Regions from separate parts of the Homo sapiens genome. Here region 2 is linked to region 1. The links come from fine-mapping of genetic effects on gene expression. A gene starts in region 1. The other region holds a variant in brackets. All regions are shown on one strand. Distances are between the middles of the regions.

Region 1 (5,366 bases):
GCAGCTGACAAACAGGCAAGGCAGGCCGGGCACGGTGGCTCACGCTTGTAATCCCAGCACTTTGGGAGTCCAAGGTAAGCGGATCACAAGGTCAAGAGATCGAGACCATCCTGGTCTACATGGTGAAACCCCATCTCTACTAAAAAATACAAAAATTAGCTGGGCGTGGTGATGCACACTTGTAGTCCCAGCTACTCAGGGGGCTGAGGCAGGAGAATCACTTGAACCGGGAAGGCCGAGGTTGCAGTGAGCCGAGATTGTGCTGCTGCACTCCAGCCTGGCGACAGAGCGAGACTCTATCTCAAAAAAAAAAAAAAAAAAAAAAAAACCAGCAAGGCAGGGACGCCAGCAGGGCACGTGCTGAGGAGACAGGCGCGAGCACCAGAGGTGCAGGGCGGCCTCTTAGCCGGAGTCCAGGAGGCCTTTGAGGGGAGAGGGCTTCTGGCAGACCCCAGGGGTGGGGATGAGCAGTGACAGGGGCCCTGGGGGCTGGGATGTGACAGGGCAGCGTGGCAGTGTCTGGTGGCCCCTCCCGCAGGCCATCACCATCGAGGCTGAGCCAAGAGCTGATGGCAGCCGCCGGACCACCCGCTATGACATCGACATGACCAAGTGCATCTACTGCGGCTTCTGCCAGGAGGCCTGTCCCGTGGATGCCATCGTCGAGGCACGTGAGGCCCCCGGGTGGGAGGGGGCCTGAGGCTCCTCAGCAGGGCCTAACCACCGTCCCTGCACCTCAACCTGCAGGGCCCCAACTTTGAGTTCTCCACGGAGACCCATGAGGAGCTGCTGTACAACAAGGAGAAGTTGCTCAACAACGGGGACAAGTGGGAGGCCGAGATCGCCGCCAACATCCAGGCTGACTACTTGTATCGGTGACGCCCCACCGGCCCGCAGCCCCTGCTGCCCAATAAAACCACTCCGACCCCACGGCCTCTTGTCTTGACTCTGGTGGTCCAGGGTGGGGCCGTTCCCGGCCTGCCTGAGGCCTGTGGTGCCTCCAACTGGACTAGGTCGCCACCTAGTCTTTATGCTCTCTGGAGTCCTGCTGCCCCAGCCCTGCCTTCCTGTAGACTCCAGGGCCCCACCAGGCTCTCATGGCTAGACCACAGGCCGCAGCATCCCTGTCACCCTGCCTCTTCCTGGGCGTCTTCCCCAAGGCCCAGCGATGCCAGAGGTCACCACAGACCTGCCGTTCCCACTCTCCCGGGTGTCCTGGCTGGGGCCTGGGCCTCCTGTCTCCCAAGAGCCATCCACTTGTAAGACGCTTAGGACTTGGAGCCTCCCAAGACCTCAGGCTGAAGAACAGCAAGTGGCAGAAACTCAGGCCGGGGCATCCTTGCTGGGGGTAGGAGGAAGCCTGCTTGGGGTGACAGTCACACGAGGGTGACACAGGCCCTGCTGGCCCTGAGCTGGCCTGCGTCCAGCCACATCCTCTTTCCTGTGTTCCCTACGCCAGGGTGCTGGCCCGGCCACTGCTCACCACTTCCTGCTTTGCTGGCCCAGCGACACGGTGGGGTTTCCCTAGGGCCACACACAAGCCCCTTGCCCATATAATGGCCAAAAGCAGCCCCCCTGAACTTGTGCTAAGTACTGTGGAAGGATTTCACTTCATTTGCAGTGAGGAAACCAGCTCCGAGAGGTGAAAGGGCTTGCTCAGGGCCATGCAGGGCACATCCCATAATAAAACTCAGTTCAGAGACCTTGACCCCCCCCATCTACCATCATTTCCAAAAGTGCTTTTTACAAAGCACTACTTTGTAAAAAGCTACTTCTTCGAAAGAACAAGTTTCCTGGCCCAGTGAGTGTTGGAAATGCTCCAGCTGCTGTGTGCCTGCTGGCAGGTACTGCATGGTAGACATTCAAGGCTCTGAGAAGGCCTGCAGCAAAAACACCAGCCTCTCCCAGCCCATTCCCAGGGAGCTTTTCTCAGGTCTAACACCTGGGCCTCCTTCCTAGACCAGGCATTGCCATCTAATGCCAAAGTGGCCAGGCTCCCGCTTGGGCCCCACAGCCTGTGGCACTGGGGTGAGAAGTAACTGCAGGAGGCGAGGGGAAGCCTGGAGCCCGGGAAGTGTCCACAGGTCTGGCCCGCAGCTCATCTTGGCCACTGATGAAAACAGGTGTTCTTTCCAAAAACAAGGCAGGCGCAGGACTCCTGAAGCACCGCCGGTTTAGCTTTTCCCAGACGTAACCGCCGTCAGAGCGTGGCATGGAGCCTGTAGCTGTGCACTGAATACTTCTATTCCAAGCGGGTCAGTCTTTCCAGCTCACCGCTGGGTTCTTTCCCTTACCGTGGTCTCCCAGGCACTTACTGCTGAGACCCCACTCAGGCTGTCTGGTTGTATCAGGCCCCGACCCTGTCAGAACAGGCCTATGGCGCCCAACCACAAGTCCCCCAATTTTCTGAGGAACCACAGCTGAGCTTGGCTGTGACTCAGTTTCCAGGCCCGGCTCTGGGGCTCCACTTGTCCACCCCTGCCGCAGCCCCACAGGCCTGTGCTCGCTGTGTGGGGCTTAGGGATCACCAGAGCTGAAGGGCCCCTGGCCTCCAGTGGGAATGCCCCAGGCCTGTCCAAAGTGCAGGCAGCTGGACGGTCGTGAGTCCCAGCTTCCAGGCACTAGGACCTGATGACGCCCATGGTGCTGACCTGGAGCAAGGTCACAGTGACACCCCCCTCTACCCCCCGCGGCTGCAGCTGCAGGTGGAGCTGACAGCTGGCCTCTGGCCCCAGGGTATCTCCCAGGGCCTGCTGGGTGCGGGGCGCTGGGCAGAACAAGGCAGCATGGCCTGGCCCTGTGTCCTGCTGCCAGTGAAGCAGGCCCAGAGTGGGGCAGCCACCCACCCAAGGGCCAGAGCGGGGCCTCTCCAGGGTGGTCAAGAGCAGGAAGGTGTAAGCACCGGCGGGTTTCACTGCCGCCCAAGGGAGGGGTCCCGGAGGTGGGGGAGCATCCTGGGGACCCCAAGCCCATGAGCCTGCGAATGTTGGGGTCCCATCAGCCAGAGGCGCACAAGCCTCGAAGTGAGAGGAGAGCAGGGTCTCATCTCCTATCCTGAGCTGGGCCTGAGCGGAGCTGCCCCTGCATCGGGGCCAGCATAGACGCGCGCGGTTGGCAGTGGTCTGTTATCCGCTCCTTTCTCCAGGCCTCCTCTCCGGGATTAAGCGCCTCAGGACCCGTCCGCCAGGCCACAGCCTGGGCTCAACCTCTCCCAGACTTCCTGGACTCCAGTGGAGCCTTGGGCCGGGGGCGGGGCGTCCCTGGCCCCTCCCCGTCGTCCCGCCTGCCCGGAAAGGAGTGAGCGGCGCCTAGTCCCGGGCTGGCGGGAGTGCAGTTCTGAGTCCCGCCCGGCGTGCGCGGAGCGGGGCAGCCAGCAGCGGAGGCGCGGCGCGCAGCACACCCGGGGTGAGTGCCCCTGCCGGGGTCTGCGGAGCCCCAGAATTTCCTGCCCACCCTCTTCCCCCTGCCCCGGGGAGGAGATCCTGGCGCCCCACCCAGTTGGCTCCGTGAATGCAGCTCAGCCCGCCACCCCGCAGGGTGTCAGGCCTTGCGGGGGGCCACGGAGGATCCCCAAGGGAGGAGGAGAAGGATGGGGTGTTTACCAACACAGCCCAGCGTTCCCGGGCCTGGTGTGCGCGGAGCTTTCCCCGCTGCTGCTTCCTTGGAGGGAGGGACCCATTCTACAGATGGGGAAGCTGAGACCACACAACTAGGAAGTGTCAGAGCTGGAGACCAGCTGGGTCATTTGACTCCAGAGCCCACCCCATTTGGAATGGAGGGGGCGCCAGACCCTCTCCTACTGCCTTCCCATCATCTGGAGGGGAGGGCAGAGGTGCAGAGAGACCTGCTGGGTTCCTGGAGGGGCCAGGAAAGGGGCACAGGGTGAGGAGTGGGCTGGAGCCTGGACCCCAGGGCCGCAGGATGGAGGCGTATTCATTTACACCATAAAAGTGGCTGGGTGACCCTGGCTAGAGCGGGGACCAAGGGGGACAGGGGTAGGGGGTGAGCCAGTGGAGCCTCACATGCCAGGCACGGGGGCTGATCACGTCCCCACACCTTTCCCCCCGCCCATTACAGGTTGTTCCCCCACCCCCTGGGAAGTGCTGGAAGGAGCCCGGCCCTCGAGCCCTCGGCATAGTGGCTGTGGGAGCCCTGATGGCCCTGAGCCAGGGGTGACCCCTCCCCAGATCCCCAGAGCTGATTCCCCACACCTCCTTATTTGGCCAGCACAGCCCCAAAGGGAGCCAGGTCAGACACAACCCTCCTCTGAGCTCACCCTTTGTGCTGGGCACATAACATTGGACTTTACCTCTCCAAGTGTCAGTGGAGTCCTGTATGAAACAAAAGCACCGTACCCCCTCCCCAAGGGTTTCTCCCCCCAGGGATTAGTGTGAGGTCGTGTGGATGAAGGGATTCAGTTGAGGCTCTGGTTATTTTTGTCACCTCCCTAGATCCTGTCTCTGTCAGGGGTGCCACGTCCCATTCACCCAAAGAGGAAGTAGAGGCACAGAGAGGGTGAGAGACTTGCCCAAGGTCACACACCCAATCTCAGCCTGGGCTCCAAGTCCCTCTGCCCTGTGGCCGGGCCTGGTCCTTAGGGATGGAACCCAGCCCCGCTGCCCCCTGCCCTGCCCACCTGCAGCCTTGGGCCATCTGCTCAGTGTTCCCTCGTTCCCTCCTTCTCTCCTTTCCCAGGCTGGGGCTGGGGCTGCGTTTCCCTGTTTAGAGTTAAGTAAACCAGACCCAGGGGAGGAAGTGACTGGCTGGGCAGGCGGGGCCCTGACCAGGCCTGTCCCCTCCCCCTAATTTTCGAGCTAAGCAACTGATTCCCACAGAGGGGCCCTGGGCCCTGAGAGCAGTGGCTTTGGAGCTGGAGGGGCCCCAGCATCCAGGGCGGGTTGGAGGTGGCCTGGCACCTGCCCCCACCCCACATCGGCCTTGAGCAAGGCCCCGGGCCCTTCCCCGCCATTCTGTAGTTTCACTTTTGTTGGTTTCAACACCTGGAAGGCTGCGGCTGCTGCCGGGCGGCCCGGGCCTCAGGGGACAGCCCCCCCACAGCAGTGCTCCCTGGCTAGCCCCAGGGTACCCGGTGGAGATGCCCGCTCCTACCACTCAGCACATGCAGCTCCACAGGGAGCAGCGAGGGCTCCAGCCACCCCCGGGGCAGCCCTGGGCCTAAGTGCCTGGGCCAGTGGGGTCCTGTCTAGGGTGACGGCAGCCCGAGAGGAGGGAGGCCAGAGTGAAGGTGGGGGTGGAGCCGGTGTCACTGGGAGACGCTGGAGGTAGGGGCGGGGGTCCCCATGGGCAGAGCAAGCCAGGAGAGAGCTTGAGGTCGGCCTGAGGGTGGGCTTCGGGGTCTCCCAGTC
Region 2 (5,366 bases), 50 kb before region 1:
ATATTAATAATTAATTTTAATCATGCATAATCATATCTCAAAAATAATCATTAATGATTAATAACGTTATACTGTTAATTAATATTACCATTGATAATTATTAATAAGACTGATGTTTAATAATTCAGAATATTATTACTGCTAATACCGCAGGGGGTGTACATCTACTTGTGATAATGTTCCTAATATCCAGGGATGGAGAGCATGATATTAGTTTTCATATCACAGTAGGTGTACACTCACCCTGTGACACCGATCCTAATACCCAGCTTGTAGAGTATGACATGACTGCCAACATAGCAATCAATGTACAGCCACCCGGTGATATTGCTCCTAATATTCACGGAAGAAGCGTATGATATTACTCCCAATATCGCAGGGAGTGTACACCTCTTCTGTGATATTGTTCCTAGTATCCCGAGGGGGAGAGGGTGATAATAATTCCAGCAACGCAGGCTGTGTTCACCCAGCCTGTGAAATTGTTATTAATATCCTGAAAGGGAGAGGATGATATTACTCCCCATAATAGAGCAGGAGGTGTACACCCACCCTGTGATATTCTTCCTAATATTCAGAGGCCGAGAGGTTGATATTACTCCCAATATCGCAGGAAGTATACACCCCTGTGTGAGATGGTCCTTCATAATATTCCAAGGCGGAGGGGGTGATATGACTACATATATGGCAGAAAGTGAACACCCCCCAGGGATATTGTTCCCATGATCCTGGAGGGAAGAGGATGATATTACTTTCAATATCACAGAAGGTGGACACGCCCCCACTGATATTGTTTCTAATTGCAACGTGGGACAGGAGGATATGACACGCGATATCCGAGGGAGTGGAAACACCCCTGTGATACTCTTCTTAATATTCATGGAGGAAGAGGATGATATTACTCCCAATACAGAAAGGTGTACACCCTCTGTACACTGAGGGTATACACCCATCTGTGAAACAGTTCATAATCTCCAGAGGGGGAGATGGTGTTGCTCAAAATAAGGTAAACAGGCTGTGAGTCCACCGCGGATCCTAAAACCCAGGGGGGGAAGAGGGGCTAGCTCTTACTCCCCGCATCGCAGGGGGTGCCTCACCCCCCTGTGATGGGGGTCCTAAGAGCCAGGGGGGGAGAGGGGCTGTTCCCTACGTTGGGGCACTGAGGTCCCTGTTTTCTTGTAAGCTGCCATTGGGGACCACTCTCGGCTTCCAGGGGCCCCCTTGTAGGTGGCACCATGGCCACTTGCCCTACTCCAAGCCTGCAGAAGAGCGCCTCTCTGCCATGTCCCTTTCTTTTAAAAGACTTGCCTGACTGGTTCAGGTCCATTAGGTAGCGTCCCATTTGATTAGCTCAAAAGTACTGTAGCCCATCACATTCACTCACAGGAGGGCATTAGCGGGGTGTGGACACCAGGGAGTGAGAATCTCTCAGGCCAGTTTAGCATTCAGTTGGTTAGCCAGGTTCAGTGGCTCACGCCTGTAATCCCAGCACTTTGGGAGGCCAAGGCGGGCAGATCACCTGAGGCCAGGAGTTCGAGACCAGCCTGGCCAACATGGTGAAACCCAGTCTCTACTAAAAATACAAAAATTAGCCAGGCGTGGTGGTAGGCGCCTGTAATCTCAGCTACTTGGAAGCCTGAGGCAGGAGAATCGCTTGAACCTGGGAGGTGGAGGTTGCAGTGAGCCGAGATTGTGCCTTTGCACTCCAGCCTAGGCGATACAGCGAGTCTCAAAAATAAATAAATGCGAAGGCTGCTGAGCACAGTGGCTCATGCTTTATAATCCTGGCACTTTGGGAGGCCGAGGCAGGAAGACTGCTTGAGGCCAGGAGTTTCAGCCTAGCATGGACAACACAGTGCCACTCTATCTCTAAGTAAAATAAAATAAAATAAAATAAAATAAAATAAAATAAAATAAAATAAAATAAAATAAAATAGTAAAATAAGAATTCAGTTGGTTAAAAGAAACTCACTAGGTCCAGCCCACAATCAAGGGATGGAAATTACACAAAGTTGTGAAGAGTCAAGGGTGGGAGATCGCTGGCAGCCCTTATAGATGCTGCCTATCTCACATACCTGTTGGACAGCTTCTCTCTCCTAGCTGGGGGTATTTGGAGCGGGTGTCGAATCCTGCTCTTTTTTATGTCTGTTGCCTTTTCTCGCGGTGATGTGTTTCCTGTGTGTTCTGTAATTTTGGATCGTGAGCTGAGCTTCAGAGGGGCTTTAGTGGTCCCAGGGTACCACTAAGCCAAGGCAACTTTTATTTTTGAGACAGAGTTTCCCTCTTGTTGCCCAGGCTGGAGTGCAGTGGCGCAGTCTCAGCTCACTGCAACCTCTGCCTCCCAGGTTCAAGCTATTCTCCTGCCTCAGCCTCCAGAGTAGCTGGGATTACAGGCACACGAGGCTTGGCTAATTTTTTGTATTTTTAGTGGAGACGGGGTTTCACCATGTTGGCCAGGCTGGTCTCGAACTCCTGACCTCAGGTGATTCACCTGCCTCAGCCTCCTGAAGTGCTGGGATTACAGGCGTGAGCCACCACTCCCGGCCCAAAGCAACTTTTTAGTGTTAATTTCTCAACTCTGGCATTCCTAGACCACACAGGTGGCATGACTTTATTGTAGGAGTTCCACATTTACATAAGAGAGGCCTGAAAACGCAACGATCTCATGGGAAACTTGTTCACCACCTAAAGCTCAAAATTTCTCACCTCTCTCTGTTCCCCTGGGTGGAAATGTTTCTGTCCCTTTCTCTAAAGGTGTTGCATTTCTGTGGCCCCAACTTCATCATGCTTGACTGTAACCCT[A/G]ACCCCCTGCCTTGTAAGGGATACCAACGCTCAACCCAGCCCTGCCCTCAGGCAGTTGCAGCACCAGCTCCTCTGTCCCCACCTTGGTTCTCACTCTCCTCTTCACTTCTGGCCTTAGGGGACTTAACTTATTTTCTGAAGAACTCAGCTATATATTTATTTTATTTTATTTATATATTTTTTGAGATGGAGTTTCACTCTTTTGCCCAGGCTAGAGTGTAATGGCGTGATCTTGGCTCACTGCAACTTCTGCCTTCCGGGTTTAAGCGATTCTCCTGCTTCAGCCTCCTAAGTAGCTGAGATTACAAGCGCCTGCCACCACTCCTGGCTGATTTTTGTATTTTTAGTAGAGATGGGGTTTCACCATTGGCCAGGCTGGTCTTGAACTCCTGGCCTCAGGTGATCCGCCTGCCTCAGCCTCCCAAAGTGCTGGAATTACAGGCGTGAGCCACCACGCCCGGCCTCAGCTCTATAGTTAAAAGGACATTTGTTTCTTACCCAGCATTTCTAGGTGTTTTGAAGAGGGAGACTTCTCAGGTTATCTAACCTGCTACTGAGAACTTAAAGATAGGGAAAATCTTGGACTGGAGATTCTTGGAATCACATAATTGAAAAATCCCAGCTGGGCGTGATGGCTCACGTCTATAATCCCAGCACTTTGGGATGCCGAGGCAGGTGGATCACCTGAGGTCAGGAGTTTGAGACCAGGTTGGCCAACATGGTGAAACTTCGTCTCTACTAAAAATACAAAAAAAAAATTGCCTGGCTTGGTGGTGGGCGCCTGTAATCCCCGCTACTCGGGAAGCTGAGGTAGGAGAATCGCTGGAACCCAGGAGATGGAGGTTGCAGTGAGCTGAGATCATGCCATTGCACTCCAGCCTGGGCAACAAGAGTGAAACTCCGTTGCAAAAAAAAAAAAAAAAAGAAAAGAAAAGAAAAGAGAAAGAAAAAGAAAAATCCCCACAGTGCAGATCGACAAAATCACAGAGTTGCTTTGGGAGCGAGGGTGGCAATCAGACACGGAGGCCATGACACAACCTGCTTATCCACTCAGGGGTCCAGAACCTCCACCCAGTCACCTTATCCGGGGGTGATGGAGACAGGGGAGGTGCCACCTACGCCAGTGTCATCTCTTACAATGAGCTCTTCTCCTGCTCGAAAAGAGCCAGCCTGCTGAGCTTGCTGCCAGGGCCCGTCGCACTGCCTGCGCTGTGTTGCCCGTCGCACAGCCTGTGATATGTGTTTCCCATCATGTGTGCATGTGTGTTGTCATGTAGTGTCTGTCACAGGTGTTACCCGTCACGTGTGTTTGCATGTTGCATGTGTGTGGCCTATCAGGTGTAAATATGTGTTGTCTGGCACATGTCAGCATCTGGGCATTCTCCGTGTGCCAGGAGCAGCCAGGTGGCCTGTGAAGCCTTCTCATGGGAAATGCCCAGATAGGAAGAGCACAGCCAGGAGCCAAGCCCCTGAGTGGCCACTCCATGTGCCTGGATCACCTTCAAGTCTGCTCAACATCACAGCCTCTGTTCCTTGGCACCATGGACATTGGAATTGACTCGGAACTGGGAAGAGCTGTAGGCCCACTATCCAGGCACCTGCTCCCCGTTTGCCCAGCATCCCAGGGGCCCACACCCTTCCAAATATCACCTTGCCCTCCATTCAGAGGTGAATCATCTGAGCGTCAGGTTGCCCAACTCCGACTGGTTTTGCTGGAGCCTGCCTAGAGGATGTCGCCAGCCACCTCCAGAGAACACTCAGTCTACAGATGCCGAGGGGGAACTGGAAGCACACAGTGCTGGCCTTCACCCAGGTTATGGTGGCACCTCGGGACCGCTTCTGAGTCTGCTTGTCACTGAAGGTCGGCGTGAGGCAGGCAGCGTTCCCTCCCAGATTTAGAAAATGTCAAGTCTCCCGCCGCACCCTTTTGTGTTTCTTACAGGGCCTGGTGCGCTTGCTGCCGCCACACTAAGGGCTCCAACATGTTCCCTCACACACTCAACAGAGAAGGAACCTGTGGCTCAGATGGCAGACTCCCTGTCCAAGGCCACAGAGTCTGGCCCCAGGGACCACTAGAGGCTTCAAGAACCAAACTCACATGAGGGCAGAGAGGAGAGATGGGGCCAGTTTAGGGCTGGGAGAATCCATAGAGCGATGCTGAGGCAGGCATGGAGCCTGGAGGTACGGACGAGGGTCTCGCCAAAGTCAGGGGTAAAGAGGCTGTGGGGAGTGAGGAATGGTGTGGGCCAGCCCCGGGCCTGCTGGGGTGCAGCTGGGGGCTCCATGGCCCTCCCACGGCCCCCACTTGTCCTCACCCAACCGTTCAGAGCTCTTCATGGCGGGGGTGTCCTCTCCTCTGGCCACAAGAGGAGCGGGTGGAGGAACGGCACCTTCAGGCCTTGTAGGGGGTCTGCCCCTCCACCAGCCTGTTTCTCGTGGGCATCGCAGCTGAGGCTGTAGCCGGGAAAGGGTAGTCACCGAGCGTACCTGGCCTCCAACCACCACTTCCAAGGCCCCTACTGGGCACAGGGTGACCCCACCGTGGCTCGGAAGTGGACCCTGTCCGA

What was found. PIP is the estimated chance that this variant, and not a neighbour inherited with it, causes the effect. A credible set is the group of variants that fine-mapping cannot tell apart.
Region 2: its variant is the best candidate, but not a certain one, in a credible set for the expression of TCIRG1 in T cells (TOPMed, PIP 0.58).

Annotation. Positions count from the first base shown.
Region 1 is chr11:68,035,715-68,041,080 of GRCh38, forward strand. It overlaps TCIRG1 (T cell immune regulator 1, ATPase H+ transporting V0 subunit a3), which reads left to right and starts at 3,311. Exons shown (of 20, transcript NM_006019.4): 1 at 3,311-3,405. It overlaps NDUFS8 (NADH:ubiquinone oxidoreductase core subunit S8), which reads left to right. Exons shown (of 7, transcript NM_002496.4): 6 at 539-667; 7 at 748-930. The coding sequence ends at 879. RefSeq lists an enhancer at 2,670-3,291 and silencers at 3,183-3,362, 3,423-3,502, 5,183-5,312.
Region 2 is chr11:67,985,345-67,990,710 of GRCh38, forward strand. No RefSeq gene overlaps it. Among named protein-coding and RNA genes, the nearest start is that of UNC93B1, 16 kb to the right of the region's middle. The variant A/G (reference allele first, on the strand shown) is at 2,800.